Linked DNA regions of Homo sapiens. The protein of the gene in region 1 purifies or fractionates together with the protein of each later gene. This does not show direct contact. Each region holds a gene or a part of one and is shown on either strand. Other genes may lie near its edges.

Evidence for each region.
Region 2: the proteins of RPAP1 (region 1) and ELAVL1 purify together in Homo sapiens (affinity purification with mass spectrometry, with the first as the bait; one large-scale study listed by BioGRID). This does not show direct contact.
Region 3: the proteins of RPAP1 (region 1) and HLTF purify together in Homo sapiens (affinity purification with mass spectrometry, with the first as the bait; one large-scale study listed by BioGRID). This does not show direct contact.
Region 4: the proteins of RPAP1 (region 1) and MCM10 purify together in Homo sapiens (affinity purification with mass spectrometry, with the first as the bait; one large-scale study listed by BioGRID). This does not show direct contact.
Region 5: the proteins of RPAP1 (region 1) and KIF11 purify together in Homo sapiens (affinity purification with mass spectrometry, with the first as the bait; one large-scale study listed by BioGRID). This does not show direct contact.
Region 6: the proteins of RPAP1 (region 1) and MAGED2 purify together in Homo sapiens (affinity purification with mass spectrometry, with the first as the bait; one large-scale study listed by BioGRID). This does not show direct contact.
Region 7: the proteins of RPAP1 (region 1) and ANAPC1 purify together in Homo sapiens (affinity purification with mass spectrometry, with the first as the bait; one large-scale study listed by BioGRID). This does not show direct contact.

What each region holds. Positions count from the first base shown.
Region 1 is NC_000015.10:41,523,758-41,527,257, reverse strand, and holds part of RPAP1 (RNA polymerase II-associated protein 1), read left to right. Parts: coding exon 1-91; intron 92-189; coding exon 190-360; intron 361-2,109; coding exon 2,110-2,267; intron 2,268-3,003; coding exon 3,004-3,162; intron 3,163-3,285; coding exon 3,286-3,487; intron 3,488-3,500. UniProt on the Homo sapiens protein: Forms an interface between the RNA polymerase II enzyme and chaperone/scaffolding protein, suggesting that it is required to connect RNA polymerase II to regulators of protein complex formation.
Region 2 is NC_000019.10:7,958,073-7,960,641, reverse strand, and holds the end of ELAVL1 (ELAV-like protein 1), read left to right. Parts: 3' UTR 1-2,069; downstream 2,070-2,569. UniProt on the Homo sapiens protein: RNA-binding protein that binds to the 3'-UTR region of mRNAs and increases their stability.
Region 3 is NC_000003.12:149,069,534-149,073,033, reverse strand, and holds part of HLTF (helicase-like transcription factor), read left to right. Parts: intron 1-1,376; coding exon 1,377-1,451; intron 1,452-1,590; coding exon 1,591-1,782; intron 1,783-3,500. UniProt on the Homo sapiens protein: Has both helicase and E3 ubiquitin ligase activities. Possesses intrinsic ATP-dependent nucleosome-remodeling activity; This activity may be required for transcriptional activation or repression of specific target promoters.
Region 4 is NC_000010.11:13,185,558-13,189,057, forward strand, and holds part of MCM10 (protein MCM10 homolog), read left to right. Parts: intron 1-606; coding exon 607-723; intron 724-3,323; coding exon 3,324-3,500. UniProt on the Homo sapiens protein: Acts as a replication initiation factor that brings together the MCM2-7 helicase and the DNA polymerase alpha/primase complex in order to initiate DNA replication. Additionally, plays a role in preventing DNA damage during replication.
Region 5 is NC_000010.11:92,652,130-92,655,895, reverse strand, and holds the end of KIF11 (kinesin-like protein KIF11), read right to left. Parts: intron 2,232-3,766; coding exon 2,100-2,231; 3' UTR 501-2,099; downstream 1-500. UniProt on the Homo sapiens protein: Motor protein required for establishing a bipolar spindle and thus contributing to chromosome congression during mitosis. Required in non-mitotic cells for transport of secretory proteins from the Golgi complex to the cell surface.
Region 6 is NC_000023.11:54,810,745-54,813,629, forward strand, and holds part of MAGED2 (melanoma-associated antigen D2), read left to right. Parts: intron 1-76; coding exon 77-385; intron 386-505; coding exon 506-569; intron 570-829; coding exon 830-909; intron 910-1,412; coding exon 1,413-1,507; intron 1,508-2,200; coding exon 2,201-2,280; intron 2,281-2,373; coding exon 2,374-2,416; intron 2,417-2,743; coding exon 2,744-2,806; intron 2,807-2,885. UniProt on the Homo sapiens protein: Regulates the expression, localization to the plasma membrane and function of the sodium chloride cotransporters SLC12A1 and SLC12A3, two key components of salt reabsorption in the distal renal tubule.
Region 7 is NC_000002.12:111,863,694-111,867,193, reverse strand, and holds part of ANAPC1 (anaphase-promoting complex subunit 1), read left to right. Parts: intron 1-2,242; coding exon 2,243-2,388; intron 2,389-3,298; coding exon 3,299-3,500. UniProt on the Homo sapiens protein: Component of the anaphase promoting complex/cyclosome (APC/C), a cell cycle-regulated E3 ubiquitin ligase that controls progression through mitosis and the G1 phase of the cell cycle.

The DNA.
Region 1 (3,500 bases):
GGAGGTGACATACCCAGGACCTGCGGTGGTCCTTGACATCCTGGCTGTGCTCATCCGCCTGGCCCGGCATTCCCTGGAATCAGCCACAAGGGTGAGAAAAAAGGGAGCAGGGAATGGGCAAAAAGCCTAGCTGGGCCTTGTCTTGACCCACAGCCTCCCTTCCTCCCTTTTACCTCCTGTCTCCCATAGGTCCTGGAGTGCCCTCGGCTGATAGAGACTATAGTTCGAGAGTTCTTGCCCACCAGTTGGTCTCCTGTGGGGGCAGGGCCTACCCCTAGTCTATACAAAGTACCCTGTGCTACTGCCATGAAACTACTTCGTGTCCTGGCCTCAGCTGGGAGGAATATTGCTGCCCGGCTGGTGAGCAGGACACAGGGCAAGGGATGGGGGAATGCATGGGACAGGGTTGGGTTGGGAGCTAAACATGGCTCCTGAACTCTGGGTGGCCAGCTCTTGCCATCTTCTTCCTCTCTGATCCAGTTGCTTAGAAATGCAACAGAAATCACCAGGCATGAACCTGTTTACTGGAGCCTGTTTACTGGAGCCTGGTGCATCATATAGGTATACTGTGGTCTCATGATGTAATAGGAGGTCTCCCTGTTCCCTAGACCCAGATCAGAAGGGCTTCATGCACATAGGCATTCATCATCTATAGCCAAGTAGCCCTAGAGAAGGTGCCCAGCAAGCCTTGCTATAAAGAGGGAGGGCTGGGTGTAGTGGCTCAGGCCTGTAATCCCAGCACTTTGGGAGGCCAAGGCAGGAGGATCACTTGGGGCCAAGAGTTCAGGGGCCAGCCTGGACAACATAGCAAGACTCTGTCTCTACAAAAAACAAAAACAAAAAATTAGCTAGATGTGGTAGCACATGACTGTAGTCTCAGCTACTCGGTAGGCTGAGGTAGAAGGATCACTTGAGCTGGGAGGTGGAGGCTGCAGTGGGCTGGTTGCACCAATCACTGCACTACAGCCTAGGCAACAGGGCGAGACCCCGTCTCAAAAATACTACTACTGGCCAGGTGCAGTGGCTCACGCCTGTAATCACAACACTTTGGGAGACCGAGGTGGTGGATCACTTGAGGTCAGGAGTTCGAGACCAGCCTGGCCAATATGGCAAAACCCCACCTCTACTAAAACTACAAAAATTAGCCAGGTATAATAGTGTGCGCCTGTAGTCCCAGCTACTTGGGAGGCTGAGGCAGGAGAATTGCTTGAACCCGGGAGATGGAGGGTGGAGTGAGCCAAGATCACACCACTGCATTCCAGCCTGGGTGGCAGAGCAAGATTCCATCTAAAAACAAATAATAGGGCCGGGCGCGGTGGCTCACACCTGTAATCCCAGCACTTTGGGAGGCCAAGGCAGGTGGATCATGAGGTCAGGAGTTCAAGACCAGCCTGACCAAGATGGTGAAACCCTGTCTCTACTAAAAATACAAAAAATTAGCCAGGCGTGGTGGCATGCGCCTGTAATCCCGGCTACTCCAGAGGCTGAGGCAGAGAATTGCTTAAACCTGGAGGGGCAGAGATTGCAGTGAGCCGAGATTGCGCCACTGCACTCCAGCCTGGGCGACAGAGCGAGACTCCATCTAAAAAAATAATAATAATAAAAATAAAAAAATAATAGGGGCTGGGTGCGGTGGCTCACACCTGTAATCCCAACGTTTTGGAAGGCCGAGGTGGGTGAATCACGAGGTCAGCAGTTCGACACCAGCCTGGCCAACATAATGAAACCCCGTCTCTACTAAAAATACAAAAATTAGTCGGGCATGGTGGCGCATGCCTGTAGTCCCAGCTACTTGGGAGGCTGAGGCAGGAGAGTCTCTTGAACCTGGGAGACAGAAGTTGTGGTGAGCCAAGATCACTCCACTGCACTCCAGCCAGGGCAACAGAGCAAGACTCCATCTCAAAATAATAATAAATAATAAAAAGTAAAATAATAAAATTGAAATTTTAAATAAATAATAAGAAGGAAGGGCAGGGTGGATGAGGTATGACTTTGTGGCACCAGAGGGGCCTGGGTCAGGGTTGAGTTAAGCCACTCTCTGTCCAGCTGAGAGTAGCTGGACTTGAGACTCACAGCTGACCCTGATCCTCAGACTGTGCCCATTTCCAGTTGAGCAGCTTTGATCTCCGGAGCCGCCTGTGCCGCATCATAGCTGAGGCTCCCCAAGAACTGGCCTTGCCCCCAGAGGAAGCTGAGATGCTGAGCACCGAGGCCCTCCGTCTGTGGGCTGTGGCTGCCTCCTATGGCCAGGGCGGTTACCTTTACAGGTGAGGAGAGGCAGGGGGTAGGCTCCCCCTAGACACCTTCAGTTCTGCTCTTCTGGCCAAATCAAACACCTCAGCCTTGCTCAAGGTCCCAAGCTTGGAGGAAGGATAAGAATGAGTGGGAGGGCTTCTGCCAGATGTGAAAAGGCTTAGGAGTCAGGCCCAGCCAGGGAAGAGGGGGATAAACCTGGCTTAACCGTATTCTATGCTCAAAATCATTAGCCGGGCACTGTGGCTCATGCCTGTAATCCCAGCACTTTGGGATGCCAAGGTAGGCGTATCACGAAGTCAGGAGTTCGAGACCATCCTGGCCAATATGGTGAAACCCCGTCTCTATTAAAAATACAAAAATTAGCCAGGCGTGGTGGCACACACCTGTAATCCCAACTACTCGGCAGGCTGAGGCAGGAGAACCGGTTTAACCTGGGAGGCAGAGGTTGCAGTGAGCCGAGATCACTCCATCACTCCACTGCACTCCAGCCTGGGCAACAGAGAATGTCTCAAAAAAAAAAAAAAAAAAGCATTGGTATCTGTGAAATCACATTTAAATTCCCTGTTGGGGGCAGCCTTGAAGGACAACATCCTTTCCATTCTTTAGGGCTGAGCCTTCCAAGAGTGCCCCACTCTTCCTCCTCATCCTCCTTTATCAAACTGCAGATCCCTGGGTCAGGGCCATGACCTGTGTCTCATGTCTCCACTTGCTTTCATACAGTGAAAATCAGTCCCTGTTCTTCCCTAGGGAGCTCTACCCAGTGCTGATGCGGGCCTTGCAGGTGGTGCCGCGGGAGCTCAGCACCCACCCACCTCAACCCCTGTCCATGCAGCGGATAGCCTCACTGCTCACTCTCCTCACCCAGCTAACCCTGGCAGCCGGCAGTACCCCTGCTGAAACCATCAGGTAGTTTATAGCCAGGACCCACAGGACAGGTGGAGGGCTCCTCCACAGGGCTGGGGTGGCTGGAGTGTAAAGGGGCGTGAGGCAGCCAGATCCTCACTGTGGCACCCTTTGGCACTTTTGTAGTGATTCTGCTGAGGCCAGCCTCTCGGCCACCCCTTCCTTAGTCACTTGGACACAGGTGTCTGGGCTCCAGCCTCTTGTTGAGCCGTGTCTAAGGCAGACCTTGAAGTTGCTGTCCAGACCTGAGATGTGGAGAGCCGTGGGCCCAGTGCCCGTTGCCTGCCTGTTGTTCCTGGGAGCCTACTACCAGGCCTGGAGCCAGCAAGTGAGTGCCTCCT
Region 2 (2,569 bases), on another chromosome or scaffold:
CCTTTTGACCCGTGTGTAACTTCCTCTGGTAGTTAGACCCCAGGCAGCTCCGAATTTGTGAACCTGCTTCCTGATGAATTCTCCCTTGTTCCCCCTTGGCTCTGCCATTATTTCGTTTTCAGTGTAATTTGCCAAGCCGCAGTTTTCTGTGCTGGCTGTGCCTCTAGTCGCAGCTCTGTGACTGATTCCCTCCCGGGTGCTGAGTCCCCTCCCCGGCCACCATCCTGCGTGAATATCCTGAAATTCATGGGCTTCCTCGGGGGCCCGCCCGCAGGTGGTGCTGGGTGGGTTCCGCCACCTTCTCCTGGAAGGTGAGCCTTTTCCTGGCCAAGGGCAGCTGCCTTAACCTCTGAGAGTCTGCGCTTGGCCTTAGTCCTGGAGACCCAGCCTCCAGGGACTGAACCGTGCTGCTGTTGGGAGCCAAGACCGGCCCTTTGGAGCCGGCAGCCCAGGGGTCCCTGCTGGATCAGAGAAATAGAAGCACCCGAAGACGGTTAGTGGCAATTCCTTGACCCGGTTTGCTTCCAAATGAAGGCCATTTGTCCACCAGGCATTGAAAAGACATGACTTACCCAGTCCGGCATCGGACTTGAAAAATCGAAATTGACATCACTCAGCTGTTACATTTCACATCCGATTCAGCCCCCTTTTATTTCCATGTGCTTTTCGCAGCCTTCCTGTGTTGGATGAAAGAGAATAAGAATTCAGCTGACAGGAGGCCTCTATCCTGTCCCTCCACCCCACCCTCCACCTCAATCCCCTCCCATCTTCCCCAGACCTACCTCACCTACTAGGACCTGAGGCAGCTCCTTAGCAGAGACCCCTGGGGTTTAGCTGACTCTGGGGGTCAGGGGTTCCTGTCCCCAAACTTCGCAAGACAGCCCTGAAGTCACAAGTGCTTTCTTTTAAGTGGCATTGGCAATTGGCGTGTAATGATGGCAGTAGAATCTGAATCTCGGATCCCAGGCAGGGTTCACATTTCCAAACCTTTTTGATTTCCCCTGACCTCTAATGGCTGGATCCTATTTTTCTACAACCTTTCAGTGACATCGTTCAGGTTTCTTTCTTGGCCATTTAAAAAAACAAATTTTTTTTTTCTCACTTGTAAGTCACCGCCAGTACCTAAGTTAGGCTAACGGAGACTTTGACAGGACTGGATTTTTCTTCCACCAGAAGAGAAGCCTTTTCCGTTGGTTTGGGGCCACCTCTTTGACCATGACCATGTGATGTTCCGTTTACAGTGACTTGCTTTGGGGGAGGGGAGGCTCTCTTAACCGATTCCCATGTTGTACAGTAGATGGTTAGACCTTTTGTATATTAGTGTGTTTTAAGTTATTGATTTGTTTTATATAAAATAATTTATTTTTCAGGTGCCATTTTTCATTTTAACTTTGTTTTTACATGGGTTTGTTTTCAATAAAGTCTGACACTGGTGTCCAAAAGTCAACAATAAAATGAATCCCATTGTGTTCTTTTGAAGATGCCTATGTAACTTTTAAGCTTTTTAAATTATTTTCAGAAAAAAAAAAAGAAAAGCCCTTATCAGTTTTCCATCAGCCCATTGCCTTTTTATTTTTTTTTTTTAATCCTTGTGAATAAATGTTCTTTAGTGTTTTAGGAGGAAAAAGCAAACCTAGATTTTGATAACCCAGAAGACTTCAGATTAATAAAGAAGCTTTGAAAGAAGACCATTTTTCAAAATTTTAGTGAAGTGTGAATATTTTTTGTCAATGGCTTTCTCAAAGAGAATGAAACTTTTGCACCATTTTCAGAGTTTTTATAGAGATGCCAAATTGATATATTTACATGTAATGGAAACATGAAAAAGTTTTATTAAACAATTGTTCATAGCTGTGTAGACATTTTAATTCAGTTTCCAAAGCTCTCAAAAAATCGTATTTTTGAAGTACGGAGTGATGCGGTTTGGGGCGTGGCTTACAGTTCCAACGACTCAATTGTCCCGATACTCAGTTCTTTCTACAGGTATCAGGTTCGTGTTAAACGCTGTATGTTAACTATGACTGGAATTCTGTGATATTTTGGTAATAAATGAAGTGGGATCATTGCGATGTGCTGGTGTAGGGGTGATGGTGTATGACTTGTGAGCAGCCCACAGCCCAGTAATAGAGTGCCAGGGGATGGGGACCTCTTCCCTCCGAGGTAAGCCTGTGCCAGGTCCCGGGAGCCCACGAGGGGACACCCAGTTCGGGTGTGCCCTGTGCTGGCTGACCCACGGCCCTTCAGCTCCCACCCAGATGCCCCTCTTCTCCAGGTTCACAGGTCAGTGGGCCCACCGAGTGGCCCCTGGGTATGGCCCCCCTCCATCTGCTTCCCACACCAGTGCTCCCCCAACAGTGACCCGGGGATCCTGCCTCTTCCCTCGTCTGTATGTGGAACCATAGTCACTCCCGAGCCCTGGGGCCATCCTCAGTGTCCCCTCCGTGAGACTGATCTCCTTTGTCTCCTTTGGGATGGGAATGGTTAGGGGTCTCAAGGTCAGAGAGTCCAGGTTCAAATCCTGGCTCTGACACCACTCCCCAGCGTGCCACCCAGGGGAAAGTCCCTGGCT
Region 3 (3,500 bases), on another chromosome or scaffold:
ATAAATCCATACGTGAACATTTGTACCCAACATACAAAACACACACGTTCCTGTTTATGCACGGCATATTTTTGTATCTGAAATGTTTTAAATGTTCAAGTAGTAATTTTAAGAAAAAAATTGAAGCTGAGACTTAACTCCTTTCAGTAATTTTGCAAATGCAGTGCTAAAGATTTAACTCCAAATTCTTCACATTGTCTAATTTGTAATTTAGGATGAGTTATGCTGAATTTCTTTGAAAAAAAAGTATATAAAGTAATTAATGCAGATCAATTTAAAAATAACATTAAAACTTTTTTGATGTTTGTATCTACCAGTGTTAGTCCTTTTATCTACTAATTGTAGTTACCATATTTACCCTGCTTATTGTTAGAAGGACTTGAGCTTGTTTCTGGTAGATAAGCCCCCGGTTACTTCTGATTTTTTAGACCTGGCCTGATTTCTTCTGAGCTGCTGCTGTGTTCATGTGTTAATTTTCAAAAATATCTGTATCACATATATGTTGATATAAAATTGGACTAACCTAGTTTAAATAGTCAATTAAGTTAGCATAATAATAAAAGTATCCTATAGTGCATGGCAAGTTCCTTATTGCAGTAATAATAAATGGAATGTCATTGACCTGGTAGGACTGAGAAAATATTTTGAATACAACTGATAGCATCACAGAATTTTAATGGCAGAAGGAACCTTAGAGACAATCTAAATTTAGTTCATCCCTTTCATTTTATAGGAATAAGACATGGGGCCATAAAGGTCAAGTCTTGCTGAAACTTACATATAAGCTTATTTGTGATAAAACTGTGACTGAAACTCGGGACTTAAAATTCTTTTATATTCTTTTACCTCCTAACAACTAAAGCACCTGTTCATTCGCTCTTCAGTGAGTAGTGTAATTCTAGAGTTGATTTATGTGCCTTTTTGGCGTTTGACTAGTTTGTGGTTTTTAAATTTAATTTAATTTCAATTTCTTAATTTTTTGGGACAGGGTCTCACTTTCTTGCCCAGGCTGGAGTGCAGTGGCATAATCATGGTTCACTCTATCCTCTACCTACTAGGCTGAAGTGATCCTCCCATCTCAGCATCCCTAGGAGCCAGAACTACAGGCATGCACCCCCATGCCTGGCTAATTTTTTAAAAATTTTTTTGTAGAGATGGGATCTCTCACTATGTTATCCAGGCTGGTCTCAAACTCCTGAGCTCAAGTGATCCTCCCACCTTGGTCTCCCAAAGTGCTGAGATTATTGGCATGAGCCACCACTCCTGGCCCGTTTGACATTAACGCCAGTTAATTAAATGATTTCAAATCTGACTTAAATGCAAGTATTATTTTAATTAGTTTGTTTTACATTGTTTCTTGTTGCTGTTTATTGTAGCTTAAAACAGAATTTGACAAATTGTTTGAAGATTTAAAAGAAGATGATAAAACCCATGAAATGGAACCAGCTGAGGTATTGAACCAATATTTTTTATTTAAGACTACTCAGAATGTTTAAATATACTTAGAATCTACTTTTTGTTTAATCACAGGATCTGCATGTGAAAAAGGAATGGCTTAATGTATTTCGCTTTATGACTTTTTATTTATAGGCTATTGAAACACCACTGCTTCCACATCAAAAACAAGCTCTAGCTTGGATGGTGTCACGGGAAAATAGCAAAGAACTTCCACCATTCTGGGAACAGCGAAATGACTTATACTATAACACAATAACAAATTTTTCTGAGAAGGACCGACCAGAAAATGTCCATGGAGGAATTTTAGCTGATGATATGGGTTTGGTAATTATTTTTTTCTTTAGTTAATAAAATCTAATTTTGTGATTATGATTTTCTAGAAAGTAATTTTGAAGTAAAAAGAGATAGGAATATGTTGGTACCAGTTTGGGACTAGATCTTACTATCTTTGTAGAACACAGTTTTTCCTGTAGTTTTTAGTTAAAATAGTGGTATAAAGATGTGTTCCTCAGTTTTCTTTTTTTTTTTTTTGAGATGGAGTCTTGCTCTGTCACCCAGGCTGGAGTGCAGTGACGCGATCTTGGCTCACTGCAGCCTCCGCCTCCCAGGTTCAAGCAGTTCTCCTGTCTCAGACTTCCAAATAGCTGGGATTACAGGCATGTGCCACCATGCCCAGCTAATTTTTGTATTTTTAGTAGAGACAGGGTTTTACCACGTTGGCCAGGCTGGTTTTGAACTCCTGACTTCAAGTGATCCGCCCGCCTTGGCCTCCCAAAGTGCTGGGGTTACAGATGTGAGCCACCCTGCCTGGCCATGTTTCTCAATTTTCTTTGCTCTTTGAAATTCAGGGTGACCTGTCTTTCATAGGTTTTCTTTTAAAAAGTAAAGACAAAACAATGTTATGTGAAATTGTATTCCATCACAAATATTGTGTTATGCAGAGTATTAAATAGATACTTATGTGTCCTTACACTAGCAGTTTTTATATTTTTCAGTCTCAGTAACCCTTTCTACTCATAAAAATTACTGATTTCAAAGAGCTTTTGCTTTTGTGTGCTGTTATCAGTAGTTATAGTATTAGGCAGTGGTAGCTAAAGATAGCAGTACAAACTCATTGCTTGTTAACATAAATAGCATATTTTTAAAAGAAAAATAACTATGCCAAAACATTAACATTTTTGTTGCAACAACTGGCATTGTCACATTTTTGCACATCTCTGTGTTTGGCCGAATAGATGGCAGCTGAATTCTCACCTGCTTCTTCATTCAGTCTGTTCTGTTAGGTTGTTTTGGTTGAAGTATATGAAGAAAATTTGTCCTTACGACGGTATGTTGCTGTAAAGAGAGGAGTATTGTAATAGCTTTTTAGATAATTGCAGATTTCTTTGATATACTGCATCAAAATTCAATAAATATTAGTTTATTAAAGGTTAATTGTTGTAATATGGAACGCTAAATCATATCAGTGAGCTTTTTATACCCTGTTTTGTTAAAATCTATTTGTGTATCTTGCTCATTGAATGAATATTTTACCCATGTATGATTTTATAACACCAGGCATTGCTCATTTAGAAAATGTTGGTTCATTGAGTTGGGCAGACCTACTAAATGTTGATGTATTTCATATGCAATATCCAAAACTTACATTCATTAATATTACCACTGATGTTATTAGAAAATCATTTACATTTTGGGAAGGCACTATGTTCATAGTGTCACACACAACTTTTCCAACATTCTAATTTTCTATTGAAAACTCACATTTTATCATTGACAAGCTCAGTTGTTTCCTTTGTAGATGACAGCCTCACTTTGTTCATTTTCTAGAAAGTATCTTTCAGACACTCAGTCGTGATTGATAGTTGTCATTCAAGTAAAAATGGTGTCGCATGAAAAAAGTGACTAGTTGAGCTTATAACTCCCATCTTGAGTGATTTTTCTCTAGCTAACCCTCATAGTTTGATATGCAACAGAAGTAGTTAATATGTAGTTTCCATTTCACTACACAGAATATTAAAAAGATTTGTACTGAAGTAATGAGA
Region 4 (3,500 bases), on another chromosome or scaffold:
AATGCTAGCTCTAAGGAGTGCTGGGAGAACAGGGAACAGGATCTATGACCTGAGGCTGAGAAGTCAGCCAGCCTAGAGAAAATCAGGATTCCAATCGCAAAGATGAAGGAAAGGATGGAAAATGGGAAAAGAACTGAAGGTGCCTTCTGCATCCCTGTTCCTAAAACGGTTATAGAGCCCTGGCTTCAAATTCCTTTAGACCACTAAAACCTCTCTCCTTTTTGAGACGGCCTCACTCTGTTGCCCAGGCTGGAGTGCAGTGGTGTGATCACAGCTCATTTCAGCCTGGACTTCCCAAGCTCTAGTGATCCTCCCACTTCAGCCCCCCAAGTAACTGGGACTACATGCACGCACTACCATGCCTGGCTAATTTTTGTGGTTTTTTGTAGAGACAGGGTTTTGCCACATTGCCTAGGCTAGTCTCAAACTCTTGGCCTCAAGCGATCCACCTGCCTCGGCCTCCCAGAGTGCTAGGATTATAGGTGTGAGCCACTGCGCCTGGCAATAACCTTCTTAAATCAGCACCAACCATTCTTTTTTCTATTCCTGCTAATAAAAGGCCATAATTTTGTCCGCCTTTAACTCCTGCCCCACCTTTTCTTACAGGTGTGTTTATCTATCGATCATCCTCAGAAGGTCTTAATTATGGGTGAAGCTCTTGACCTGGGAACCTGTAAAGCCAAGAAGAAGAATGGAGAGCCGTGCACGCAGACTGTGAATTTGGTTGGTTTCAGCCTTGTTAGGATGGTTTCTGCTAAAGAAAAGAACAGTTAGGAATAAACTGTTGGTGCTTTAGCTGTGATGACCAGTTTGGAACTGAGTTTCCCACTTAAAGGAAGAGTCAAAATGAGAAAATTTAATGTGTGGTTAATAACTGCCAGTTTAAAAAAGTGAGGGCAGGGGAAAGGTGAGGGGATTTAACCTCTTAGGAAAGTGATCTTTTATCTGACCAAGAAGTTTAAGACAGAATTTTTGTTTGCCTTTAATTCTTGTAATTCCACAGAGCAAACATGATGAAATACAATGAAAATTGTATTTTAGCCTATATTTTAACTCCATTATACCTTTTCTTAGGGCTTTTTAAAAAATAATAGCTTCATTTAGGTATAATTCACATACCATGCAATTCACCCTTTTAAAGTAAGCAATTCAGGCCAGGTGTGGTGGCTCACTCTTGTAATCTCAGCACTTCGGGAGGTCGAGGCGGACAGATCATCTGAGATCAGGAGTTTGAGACTAGCCTGGCCACCATGGTGAAACCCCATCTCTACTAAAAATACAAAAATTAGGCGGTCATGGTGGTGGGCGCCTGTAGTTCCAGCTACTCAGGAGGCTGAGGCCAGAGAATCACTTGAACCTGGAAGGCAGAGGTTTCAGTGAGCTGAGATCGCACTATTATACTCCAGCCTGGGCGATAGAGTGAGATTCTGTCTCCAAAAAAGAATATAAATAAATAAAGTCAACAATTCAGTAATTTCTAGTACATTCACAGAGCTGTGCAACCATCACCACTGTGTAATTTCAGAACCCTTTCATTGCCCCAGAAAGAAACCCAGTACCCACTAGCAATCACTCCCCAGTCTCCTCTCCCCCAGCCCCTGGTAAGCACTAACCTACTTTCTGTCTCTATGGATTTGCCTCTTCTAGACATTTCATATAATGGAATCACAATATGTGGCCTTTTCTGTCTGGCTTCTTTTGCTTAGCATAATTTTTCTCACAATTGATCCGTGCTGTAGCATTTATCAACACTTTATTCCTTTTTGTGGGTAAATAATATTCCATTGTATGGATATACCATACGTTGTTTATTCTTTCATCAGTTGATACACGCTTGGGTTGTTGCCACATTTAGCTATTATGAATAATGCTGCTAAAACACTCACATACAAGTTTTTATGTGGATGTATGTTTTCCACTCCCTTGGGCATATACCTGGGAGTGGGATTGCTGGGTCAACATGGTAACTGTCCAGAGTTTGGAGGAACTGCCAGACTGGTTTCCCAAGTGGCCCACCAGCAATGGATGAACTTTCCAGTTTCTCCCTGTCCTCATCAGCACCTGTTACTCTATTTCTTTTTTGTTATAGCCATTGTAGTAGGTGTGAAGAGGTACTTCTTAGAGTTCTTTGAAAGGATTAAATGACAGGTTTTGGTTTAATCTTTTTTTATTCCCTTATTCCTTCCTATTAGATTAATTGGTGGACAGGAAAGAATAAGGTGGGAGACGGTTGGAAAATGAGGTTTCAGAGTGAAGTACCCAACAGATCTCCCCGTGAGAATTAGATTCTTAAAAATCCATTGTCTGGATGGGGCGGTGGCTCACACTTGTAATCCCTGCACTTTGGGTGGCCGAAGTGGGCCGATCACTTGAGGCCAGGAGTTCAAGACCAGCCTGGCCAACATGGTAAAACCCCGTCTCCAGTAAAAATACAAAAATTAGCTGGGCGTGGTTGTGCACACCTGTAATCCCAGCTACTTGGGAGGCTGAGGCAGAAGAATCACTTGAACCTAGGAGTTGGAGGTTGCAGTGGGCCAGGATCACGCCACTGCACTCCAGCCTGGGTGACAGAGCGAGACTCTGTCTCCAAAAAAAAATCCATTGTCGCCGTAACTACTGTTCACCCAGCAGAACAATGCTGCACCATCTCTCTTTGTTTCTTTCACTGAAAGGATAGCACTTGTCCGAGGATCAACCAGAGAAACAGCTAGAAAAACCTCGCTGGGAGCTGATTTTGTTTTTAAATTATTTTTTATTGGGTCAAAATTCACAATATACAGTTAATCATTTTAAAATACATATATAATTCAGTGATATTTAGTTGTGTAACCACCAGCTCCCTGGTTTCAGAATTCCATCACCCTGTAAAAACAATGGCACCATAAAGTCATCACTCCCATCCCCACTCCCTCCGTCTCCTGGTGACGTCTAATCTGCTTTCTGTCTCTATGGATTTGCCTCTTCTATAAAAACTTCCTTTTATATTAAATAACATAGGTCCTATATTAAATAACATAGGACCTTGTGTGTCTGACTTCTTTCACCTAACTTGTTTTCAAGGTTCATCCTAAAAGCTGATTTCCTTTGTAGAAAGAGGGCAAGGGGTATTTCACCAGAACAGTGCTTTCAGGGGACTCGAAGGGAAGAACTTCTTCCCCTCAGGGACTGAGCAGCCCTTCCACATTGGGAACGGTCGTGGAGGTCAGCAGGGAGGACTCTGCATGCGTCATGTTCCGGGAAGTGGGGAGAAGGAACTGTGTCTGCTCACTGCTGTTTCCCAGCCTGTTGCCCTCATCCTGATGCCACTGCTCTGCCTTTTGCAGCGTGACTGTGAGTACTGTCAGTACCATGTCCAGGCTCAGTACAAGAAGCTCAGCGCAAAGCGTGCGGATCTGCAGTCCACCTTCTCTGGAGGACGAATTCCAAAGAAGTTTGCCCGCAGAGGCACCAGCCTCAAAGAACGGCTGTGCCAAGATGGCTTTTACTACGGAGGGGTTTCT
Region 5 (3,766 bases), on another chromosome or scaffold:
CTGTAAACTATTTTCCTGGGTTCTGACAAAGTTGTTTCTGAATGTTTTTGCTTGATTTTTCAATGTTTCTGTGGAGGAAAAGGTCCTTGAAGCTACCTACTTGGCCATTTTTGCTGATGCTACTCTTGGTTACATTCTGAGGGCCCGACATTGTGTATGAAAATTGGTAGAGCTAATTTATGGTTCTGGATGTTAAAATTATCTGGAGATTTATTTTTGCTTCTGTGAGGCAGTGAAATTAGTTGCATCAGCATTCTCAGATAACTTAAACAGTCATGGAATGAGATGACTTAAAGCTGGACTTCAGGCTGTGTGAGGGCCTACTTCTCACTAACCTTGCACCTAGGATAGCCCCTTGGAGTGCAACTAAAAGCCTGCAAGTTTACTAGGCTCCTTCTTCTTTGGTGGTACCTGCATAGTTTATTTTGGGAATGTGAATGCAGCTTGCCTAACCCTCTAAATATACCCATTGCCAGATAAGAAATTATGGAGCAAGCAGGTTAATGTAGAAACCACATTTATTAACCATGGATTTACTGAGGGCAGTTTATTAGGTATTATCCATCGCTTATGCTGACATCTGATTTTGCAGAGAAATTATAGCCATTATTTTATTAAGATAATTCTACGAGATCAATTTAGTTTCTTGAAGTAGCATATATTCAATTCTTCAATAGGGTTTGGTTTAATTTAGCTATCAAAGTCAGATGTCTCTAAACTTTACACACTAAACTCATCGTGAGCAGAAAATTTATTCTTTGTACATATTCCTTCTGTTTTGGTTCTTCAAGCTGAAACATCTCAACTTCCAGAAATATGGTTGCCAGATCAAAAATACCAGAGTCCTAAGGGTTAAGATTTGAATCGAGAAAAAGATACATGTACACATTGTATTATATACAAACAAGCAACAACAAAAAGTTTCATCATGTAAACAAAAGAATATAAATTATAGACATAATTGGAAGTTTCAAACAGTCCTTAAATCATTGTGAGCTTCTCTAAAAGGCACAGGTCTTGGAGTGTGGGCACAGAGCCATTAGTCAGATGTCTGGGTGGTCTCCCATAATAGCAATGTATACTCTTAAGTGGGCTTTTTGTGAACTCTGTCAGGGTGAATGAGTTAGGCCTCTTAAAGGAATGAAATGCTTTCACATTTGGGGCAACAAGTGAAAAATACTGAAAGGAGGGATACAACTAGGGTTAGATTTATTGTTGACAGTGATTTTAGAAATAACCACTAAAAAGGTGTTAAAAGATTTCTAGATAAAATTCTGACTACTGAAAATAAGAAAGGATACCTTTTGTAGCTCTACAAATGGTTTGGTGAAAAATAAAAAGGGAGAAAGTGAGCCGAGGAGAAAGCGAAATAGGGAAGTCTAGGGAGGATGCAAGAAAATACACAAGTCATAGCAAGAAAAAAAACATGAGATGGTCCTTTCTAAGGACAGATGTTGGTGATATTTACCTATGTAAGCTCAAGCTGAGAAGAGTACAGTTCTTATATATTCATTACTTAATAATATACAAGAAAAATACTTTTCATTTGTTATAAAAGAACTACTTTATATGAAAACTAGAAATACGTATTTACATTGCAAATCCCAAATGAAACCCAATTTAATACAAAGTGAACTATAGGGATGACAGAAAAATGGGTAGATATCAAAATTCAACTGAATTTACAGTACTGCCTTATATCTTTTTTAAATTTTGTTTTTGAGACCGAGTCTTGCTCTGTTGCCCAGGCTGGAGTGTAGTGGTGTACCTTTGGCTCACTGCAACCCCGCTTCCTGGGTTCAAGTGATTCTCGTGCCTCAGCCTCCCCAGTAGCTGGGATTACAGGAGTGTGCCACCACGCCCGGCTAATTTTTAACAGAGACGAGGTTTTGCCACGTTGGCCAGGCTGGTCTCAAACTCCTGGGCTCAAGCAATCCACCCGCCTCAGCCTCCCAAAGTGCTGGGATTACAGGCATGAGCCACCGCGCCCGGCTGATATATATATTCTTTTAAAATCTATACACAAGGCTCAAGTTCTGGGGTTTCAGGTTTTATTTTTAAGTTTTCTTTAAAAATAAAATTGCCAACCCCCAAGTGAATTAAAGGTTGATCTGGGCTCGCAGAGGTAATCTGCTCTTTGTAACCAAGTGCTCTGTAGTTTCTTCCACTTTAGACCTCTCCAGTGTGTTAATGCCTCTGTTTTCTTTGTCTTTTCCATGTGATTTTTTATGCTGTGGATTTAAGGCGGGAAAATTAAGTCAATACAAAGTAACATTAGATACACATTAACTACACTCTATTTTCAAAGTTCTCTGGGTTATAGGCAAAAAAACTTAAGTGTAGAAAACCAAAAAAGGTTCAGCACAAGTTTGAGCCAACAATTTGGCAAGTAGCGCCAAATGCCTTCTTTATTTGATCACTAATGGAAGGAGTAGAGTGAAAGAAATATTAATTTTCTGTGTTATTTTCTAAGACATAGTTATAGATTTTACTCCAGGGTAGTGGTTCTCATCAGGGAGTGATTCTGCTGCCACAGGGGACATTTGGCAATGCTGAGAGACTTTTTTGGTGTTACAATCAGGGAGTGCTACTGGCTTTGAGTGAGTATTCACATAGTACACTGTTTTTCTTGTGTACCAACATAGTACAGTCCACAGGAAAGCCCATCACAACAAAGAATTATCCAGTTTAAAATGCCAATAGCACTGCTGTCAAGAAACCCTGCTCTAAGGAAACAAAGATTTGCTGTCATGCAGAAAAGCCAATTCTGTTTTAAGCAGAGAAACTGGTATATGGGCCACCTTAAAAACACTTTTACTTGTTTTTTAAAATTGTATTTTATTTTATTTGTAAAACCTATTTCATATTCCTCATTTGGAAGTTCTATTTCATTGGAATCCTACTTACCCATACAGAACATTAATGGACTGGTGACATTCATTGTACACTCAGTCATCAATGCTGAGACAAATTGTAAACCAACTTTTAAAGTTTTAAACGCAGAGAAAATCCCCACATCACACTGCTACTAGGGAAAAGATCATTTCTGGACTTCAGCTGAAGGTCTAAAACCCCATCCCAAACCCTTTCTGGTACTGTAGGGACTTCCTTGCCATAGCTGAATCACTAAGCCTAATTCAAAATGCCACAGATAATAATAATAAAACGATTTCTGACCAGGGATTAAGTAGTCACCAGGTTCTCTTATCCTTCCCCCTTTCCTAACTTTATAAGATAGAAGAAAAGGATGAAAACTGAAAGAAACATATTTATAGTTCTCTAATAGTAAGGAATAAAGCAAAAGGTGGCAAGAATTTGGGAATAAAATTGCCCAGAGGAAGACAGGGAGGAATTTATGAGAATCTGAGTTGGAACTTTGTTAACTGTTGAAAGCAGGGATGGAGAATCTTTAGACCTTAAGGGAAGGAGCTGTAGATCTATTAAAAAACAGTTACAGGCCGAGCGCGGTGGCTCACGCTTGTAATCCCAGCACTTTGGGAGGCCGAGGCGGGCGGATCACCTGAGGTCGGGAGTTCAAGATTAGCCTGACCAACATGGAGAAACCCCTTCTCTACTAAAAATACAATATTAGCCAGGTGTGGTGGTGCATGCCTGTAATCCCAGCTACTCGGGAGGATGAGGCAAGAGAATCGCTAGAACCCGGGAGGCGGAGATTGTGGTGAGCCAAGATCAGGCAATTGCACTCTGGCCTGGGCAACAAGAGCAAAACTCCGTCTCAAAAACAAAAAAACAAAACAAGACATAC
Region 6 (2,885 bases), on another chromosome or scaffold:
TCCTGGAAGAGATAGGGAGAGGAAAAGGACCACTTGCTTCATCTGGTGACGTTGAGCTTCCTCTCTGTTGATGCAGGTGAAGCATCTGGATGGGGAAGAGGATGGCAGCAGTGATCAGAGTCAGGCTTCTGGAACCACAGGTGGCCGAAGGGTCTCAAAGGCCCTAATGGCCTCAATGGCCCGCAGGGCTTCAAGGGGTCCCATAGCCTTTTGGGCCCGCAGGGCATCAAGGACTCGGTTGGCTGCTTGGGCCCGGAGAGCCTTGCTCTCCCTGAGATCACCTAAAGCCCGTAGGGGCAAGGCTCGCCGTAGAGCTGCCAAGCTCCAGTCATCCCAAGAGCCTGAAGCACCACCACCTCGGGATGTGGCCCTTTTGCAAGGGAGGGTAAGAACTCTGTCGTTTTTATTCTGCCTTTTCTACTGCCTTGGCTGTCCTTTTCTTTGCCATCGTCTCAAGTTTTCTGCAAACTTGTTTTGGTCTTTCCATCTTTTTCTACTCTGCCAGGCAAATGATTTGGTGAAGTACCTTTTGGCTAAAGACCAGACGAAGATTCCCATCAAGCGCTCGGGTAAAGTCCTACCAATCCTCCCTCTGCCCTGAGCTCTGCCCTCCATTGCCCTTACACCATTGTGCTGGGGATATCCCCTGCTCTTATGCTTATGTCTCTGTCCTCCCAAAGTTCTGATTTGGCAGTGCTAGCATCTCTGTTGATAAGCACAGAACCGGGTTATGCCACCCTTGGTGTGGTTGGCAAAGAGTCTATAGCTTGGGCATCAGGGCCACCTGGCATCTCTTCAGTCAGGTGCTCACAACACTCTCCCCTTGCAGACATGCTGAAGGACATCATCAAAGAATACACTGATGTGTACCCCGAAATCATTGAACGAGCAGGCTATTCCTTGGAGAAGGTGAAGGGGCAGCCCTGGGGGATGGGCACAGTGGGGAAGCCTTGAATTGAACAAAAATGTACAAGTCCCTTCTCGGGAACCAAAGAGACCTGCTAATCCAGCTCCATCGCTATGCTGAGGGGCAGACAGTGGCCTAGGGAGGGGTGTAGATTAGCGATGGGTCACACAGCAAGTCAATGGTAAAAGTGCAGCTAGGACCCAAGACACCCAACTTAATCCTGGCTTCTGTCCGTCCATGGCAGCTCCTGCCATGTATTTGAGATTTCACCTCTCCCTTTCATTCCCCATTCTCTGTCTCCCTAGAGTCCCACTCACCACAAAGATGATGATGACAATAGTACATTTGCAGCGTGTTTACCGGGTGCCAGGCACTTAGCTATGTACTTTGTGCGTATTATCTCACTGATTTCTCACACATGCGAAACTCCTAGGTACATAGGGAGCTGCAGCATGCCCCGGAAGCTGAATTTTGTCATCTCACAAGCTGTTCTCCCCATCCACAGGTATTTGGGATTCAATTGAAGGAAATTGATAAGAATGACCACTTGTACATTCTTCTCAGCACCTTAGAGCCCACTGATGCAGGCATACTGGGAACGTAAGCTGGGAAAGGGCTGAGGTGTGGGGGGCTTCTGCTTTGGCCATGTGCTGCTACTCCTCCTTTGTCCTACTTCCCCCATCCTCTTAGAGAGTCAGGAAAGACAGGGTCTCAAAAGCCCCGTCCCAGTTCCTATGCATAGTTGGAGCCCTGCTTACAGTGGTGGCACCTGATTATGATTGACTGGAGGGTGTAGGAGCCTGGAGTGGGACATTCCTGCTGTCAGGTTTGCTGTCTCTGTAGAAGCTTCCCAGGAAAGCAGGCCTGTCGTTGCTTGCCTCTTCCTACTGGGTGCCTGGCCTGGCTTTGGCAGAGTGGTTCTCAAGGAGGGCTTCCTGGTGTGGGTGGATCAGGATGCATGAAGCGCAGGAGTGTCAGTGGGGCTGAAGGTTCTGGGACAGAAAGAAGGGACTCACATTGACTGAGTGCTTGTGTTGTACCAGGTTGGCAGCCATTCTTCCATCTTCTTGGAAACCCAGGGAAGGGAAAATATGATTTTTTCTATTTTACTGAAGAGTAGACTGAGGCTTGCAAGTCTAAGTGCCTTGCCAAGGGTGGCATAGAGCTGGAAGCAGAGACTGGGTAGAATTCTGTATCTGAGGAATCTGGGAGAGGCTAGCCTAGTGAGTTGGCTGGTGTGTCTGTTGCAGATGGCTGCTGAACATAAACCTCTCTGTCCTGTTATTTCTCTAGGACTAAGGACTCACCCAAGCTGGGTCTGCTCATGGTGCTTCTTAGCATCATCTTCATGAATGGAAATCGGTCCAGTGAGGGTGAGTGGCTGGGCTTGCAGCTGAATGGGTGGCTGTGGTCTAGATTCCATGTGTTCAATTTCTGTCCCTGTCTCCTCTTGCCTCCCCTCGCAGCTGTCATCTGGGAGGTGCTGCGCAAGTTGGGGCTGCGCCCTGGGTATGATTGGGCTCTCTCAGCGCTTGCTGTCCGTGTTGTCCTTTGGCAAGAGAGGACGGTCCTAGGATTGCATCAGTCTGGTGGTCTGGTGGAGCGGGTGGGGTGCTGGACTGGGTAGAGGGCCCAGGGTTCTGACCTGGGTGGATGATGGGTGAATGGTCCTGAACTCTCTGCTCCCTCTCTCAGTGTCTCTTGGGCTTCTATGGAGCTTCCCTCTTGTGCTGGAAACCTCTTTTCCATCTTGGAAATGCCTCTGCCCACATCTGGGAAGTGCCATAGCCTTGAGTGAATTTATTTGTTTATTTATTTTTCTTTTTCTTCTCTCAGGATACATCATTCACTCTTTGGGGACGTGAAGAAGCTCATCACTGATGAGTTTGTGAAGCAGAAGTAAGTATCTCTGTCTGGTGTTCATGTGTCCCATGCATTTGGCCTATTTCAGAACTGAGTGATAAAGCCGTGGTGCATG
Region 7 (3,500 bases), on another chromosome or scaffold:
TTCAGCCTCCCAAGTAGCTGGGATTACAGGCATGTGCCACCACACTCAGCTAATTTTGTATTTTTAGTAGAGACGTAGTTTCACCATGTTGGTCAGGCTGGTCTTGAACTCCTGACCTCAGGTGATCCACCCACCTCGGCCTCCCAAAGTGCTGGGATTACATCGTGAGCCACCGCACCCAACATAAGAATGGTTTTTACCTTTTAAAGGGTTGTAGGAAATAACAAAGATTATGTGATAGAGTCAGTATGTGGACAGCAAACTGCCCTATTTAGTCTTTGATCTTTTACAGAAAAAGTTCAAATTTTATGTTGTTACTAATTGCAGACAACCCGAATAAACATACTAGAGCCTGGGATTAAATGGCACGCAGCCTTTTTTTTTTTTTTTTTTAAGTACAATTTCCATTTTATTTTTTCTCTGGAGAATAGTCTGTTTTTAGTCGTTTTATTTTCATTTTTTTTTTTTTTGAGACGGAGTCTCGCTTTGTTACCCAGGCTGCAGTGCAATGGCACGATCTCGGCTCACTGCAGCCTCTGCCTCCCAGGTTCAAGCGATTCTCCTGTCTCAGCCTCCCTAGTAGCTGGGATTAGGGGTGTGCCATCACGCCCAGCTAATTTTTTGTATTTTAGTAGAGATGGGGTTTCACCCTGTTGCCCAGGCTGATCTCGAACTCCTGAGCTCAGGCAATCCACCCACCTCGGCCTCCCAAAGTGCTAGGATTACAGACATGAGCCACCACGCCTGGCCTTGTCTTCAGTGTTGAAGGACTCAGCTCCTTACATGGGCTTTGGTGGGTGTGTTTGGTCCTTGTGGGCTTTACAAGGTGGATTCCTGACGACTTTTCTGTGAATTGCACATCTCACACAGTAATTTAGCTTCACATACAGCTTGGGAAGCACATAGGCATTGAAGACACTCGCTTCACAAATGTCCCTGACTGCTGCGGCCTCCACCACATTTCGAATGATGAATTTTTTTTTTTTTTTTGAGACAGAGTCTCGCTCTGTTGCCCAGGCTGGAGTGCAGTGGCGGGATCTGGGCTCACTGCAAGCTCCACCTTCCAGGTTCACATCATTCTCCTCCCTCAGCCTCCCGAGTAGCTGGGACTACAGGGGCCCGCCACCATGACCCGCTAATTTTTTTTATTTTAGTAGAGACGGGGTTTCACTGTGTTAGTCAGGATGGTCTCGATCTCCTGACCTCGTGAGCCGCCTGACTCAGCCTCCCAAAGTGCTGGGATTACAGGCGTTAGCCACCTGCCCAGCCTCGAATGATGAAATTTCTTAATGGCCTTGTCCTTGGGCACACGTCGGGCACAGTTTGTGCAACGAATAGGCTGCATGTGGCTGTGCCCCTTTTTGGCATGATTGTTGTTCCTTCTTTTCTTTGTCATCTTGGAGGCACGGACTGGAGGGAGGAGTGTAGCCATTATTGATCATATTTTTGACTAATATTTAGTGAACTAGAAGTTGCTTATTTGTGATGTCAAGTAGGATACAAATAACACAGTATGATTATAATTTTGTAAAAATGTATAAAGTGTGTATATATGTATGAAAAAAACCAAAAATTCTCTAATGTATTAATAGTAGATATTTTGAGATGGTGGCATGATTTTTATTTATAAAGTATTTCTTATGATTATAGAATCATATTTTAAAATTTTTCAGTATTTTAACTGAGTGGGAAACATTTCCTGTCAAATAAGGATATGGAGACCAGTCCATGGTACTTTAGATTAAAAGCTGAACTCACTGGGAAAAACCTTATTTTGCATGTGTAACTAGTAAAGCAGAAACAACAGTGTACTGTTCGGCACTGTCTGAATAGTAATTATAGAGTACAGCTTTCATACAGAAAAACAGAACCAATAAGGAAGTCAAACTTGGCAGAATAGTTGAGTGCAATTTATAAATAAGTCAGTTGAAGAAATCATCGACCTTTTACCTGTGGCTGATTCGTGTAATGGTGAGAGTCAGCACAAATCTTAACATTTAGCAACAGCATGTATGTGAAGCTAAAACTTGTAATGCTCTCATCTTTAATGTATTTTAAGGAAGTTGATGCCTAAAGTAAATTTATTAAAAATTCAGAGTTAATTATTTAAGATAGTAATAAATTTTGTGCTCTCTTTGGCTTGGTTGTTCTTTATCTTTAACAATTTTAAGAGCTCTGTTCATAAATATCAGTCTTGTAAAGCCCATTGTTCTATACCTGATTTTTCTATTTTATTTTTAAGGTCTTTTTGGTTCATCACGGGTGCAATATGTTGTAGATCATGCAATGAAAATTGTTTTCCTCAATACTGACCCCTCTATTGTAATGACTTATGATGCTGTTCAAAATGTGCATTCTGTGTGGACTCTCCGGAGAGTCAAATCAGAGGTAAGGAGAAAGGCAAGTCACTTCTCCTTAATAGGAAAGGGTAGGCTGGGTGCACTGGCTCACACCTGTAATCCTAGCATTTTGGGAGGCCAAGGCAGGCGGATCACTTGAGGTCAGGACGTTCAAGACCAGCCTGGCCAACATGGTGAAACCCCATCTATACCAAAAATATAAAAAATTAGCCAGGTGTGGTGGCTTCTGTAATCCTATCTACTCGGGAGGCTGAGGCAGGAGAATCACTTGAACCTGGGAGGTGTAGGTTGCCGTGAGCCAAGATCATGCCACTGCACTCCAGCCTGGGTCACAGAATGAGACTCCATCTCAAAAAAAAAAAAAAAAAAAGTATATATATATATGAAAGAGTAGTTAATACTTCATACCCTCACTTTTTTTTTTTTTTTTTGGAAAAATCACTTGTGAATAGTTTTATTATCATCATCATCATCATCATCATCATCATCATCATCATCATCATCTCTAGAGACAGGGCCTCACTCTGTCACCCAGGCTGAAGTATAATGGCACAATTACAGTTCACTGCAGCCTTGAACTCCTGGGCTCAAGTGATCCTCCTGCCTCAGCCTTCCGAATAGCTAGGACTACAAATGTGTACCACCACTCCCAGCTAATTTTTAATTTTTTGTAGAGATGGGATCTTGCTATGTTGCCCAGGCTGGTCTTGAATTCCTTGGCTCAAGCTATCCTCTCTCCTCACCCTCCCAAAGTGCTGGGATTATAGATGTAAGCCACGGCACCTGGCCTCATTTGAGAAATAGATTGAGCTTCTTAGGAAAGAAGAAATACTGTGTCTTTAGTAACTGACTTCAACTTGCATTCTTACAAGGAAATTGCTACTTTATTCTAATTATTGTTTTTTTTTTTTTCCTCTTTCTCTTTATTTTGACTTAAGGAAGAGAATGTTGTTTTAAAGTTCTCTGAACAGGGGGGAACCCCACAGAATGTGGCCACTAGCAGCTCCCTCACAGCACATCTCAGAAGCCTCTCCAAAGGAGATTCCCCTGTGACTTCACCTTTCCAGAATTACTCCTCCATTCACAGCCAGAGTCGCTCAACCTCATCACCCAGTCTACATTCTCGCTCACCTTCTATTT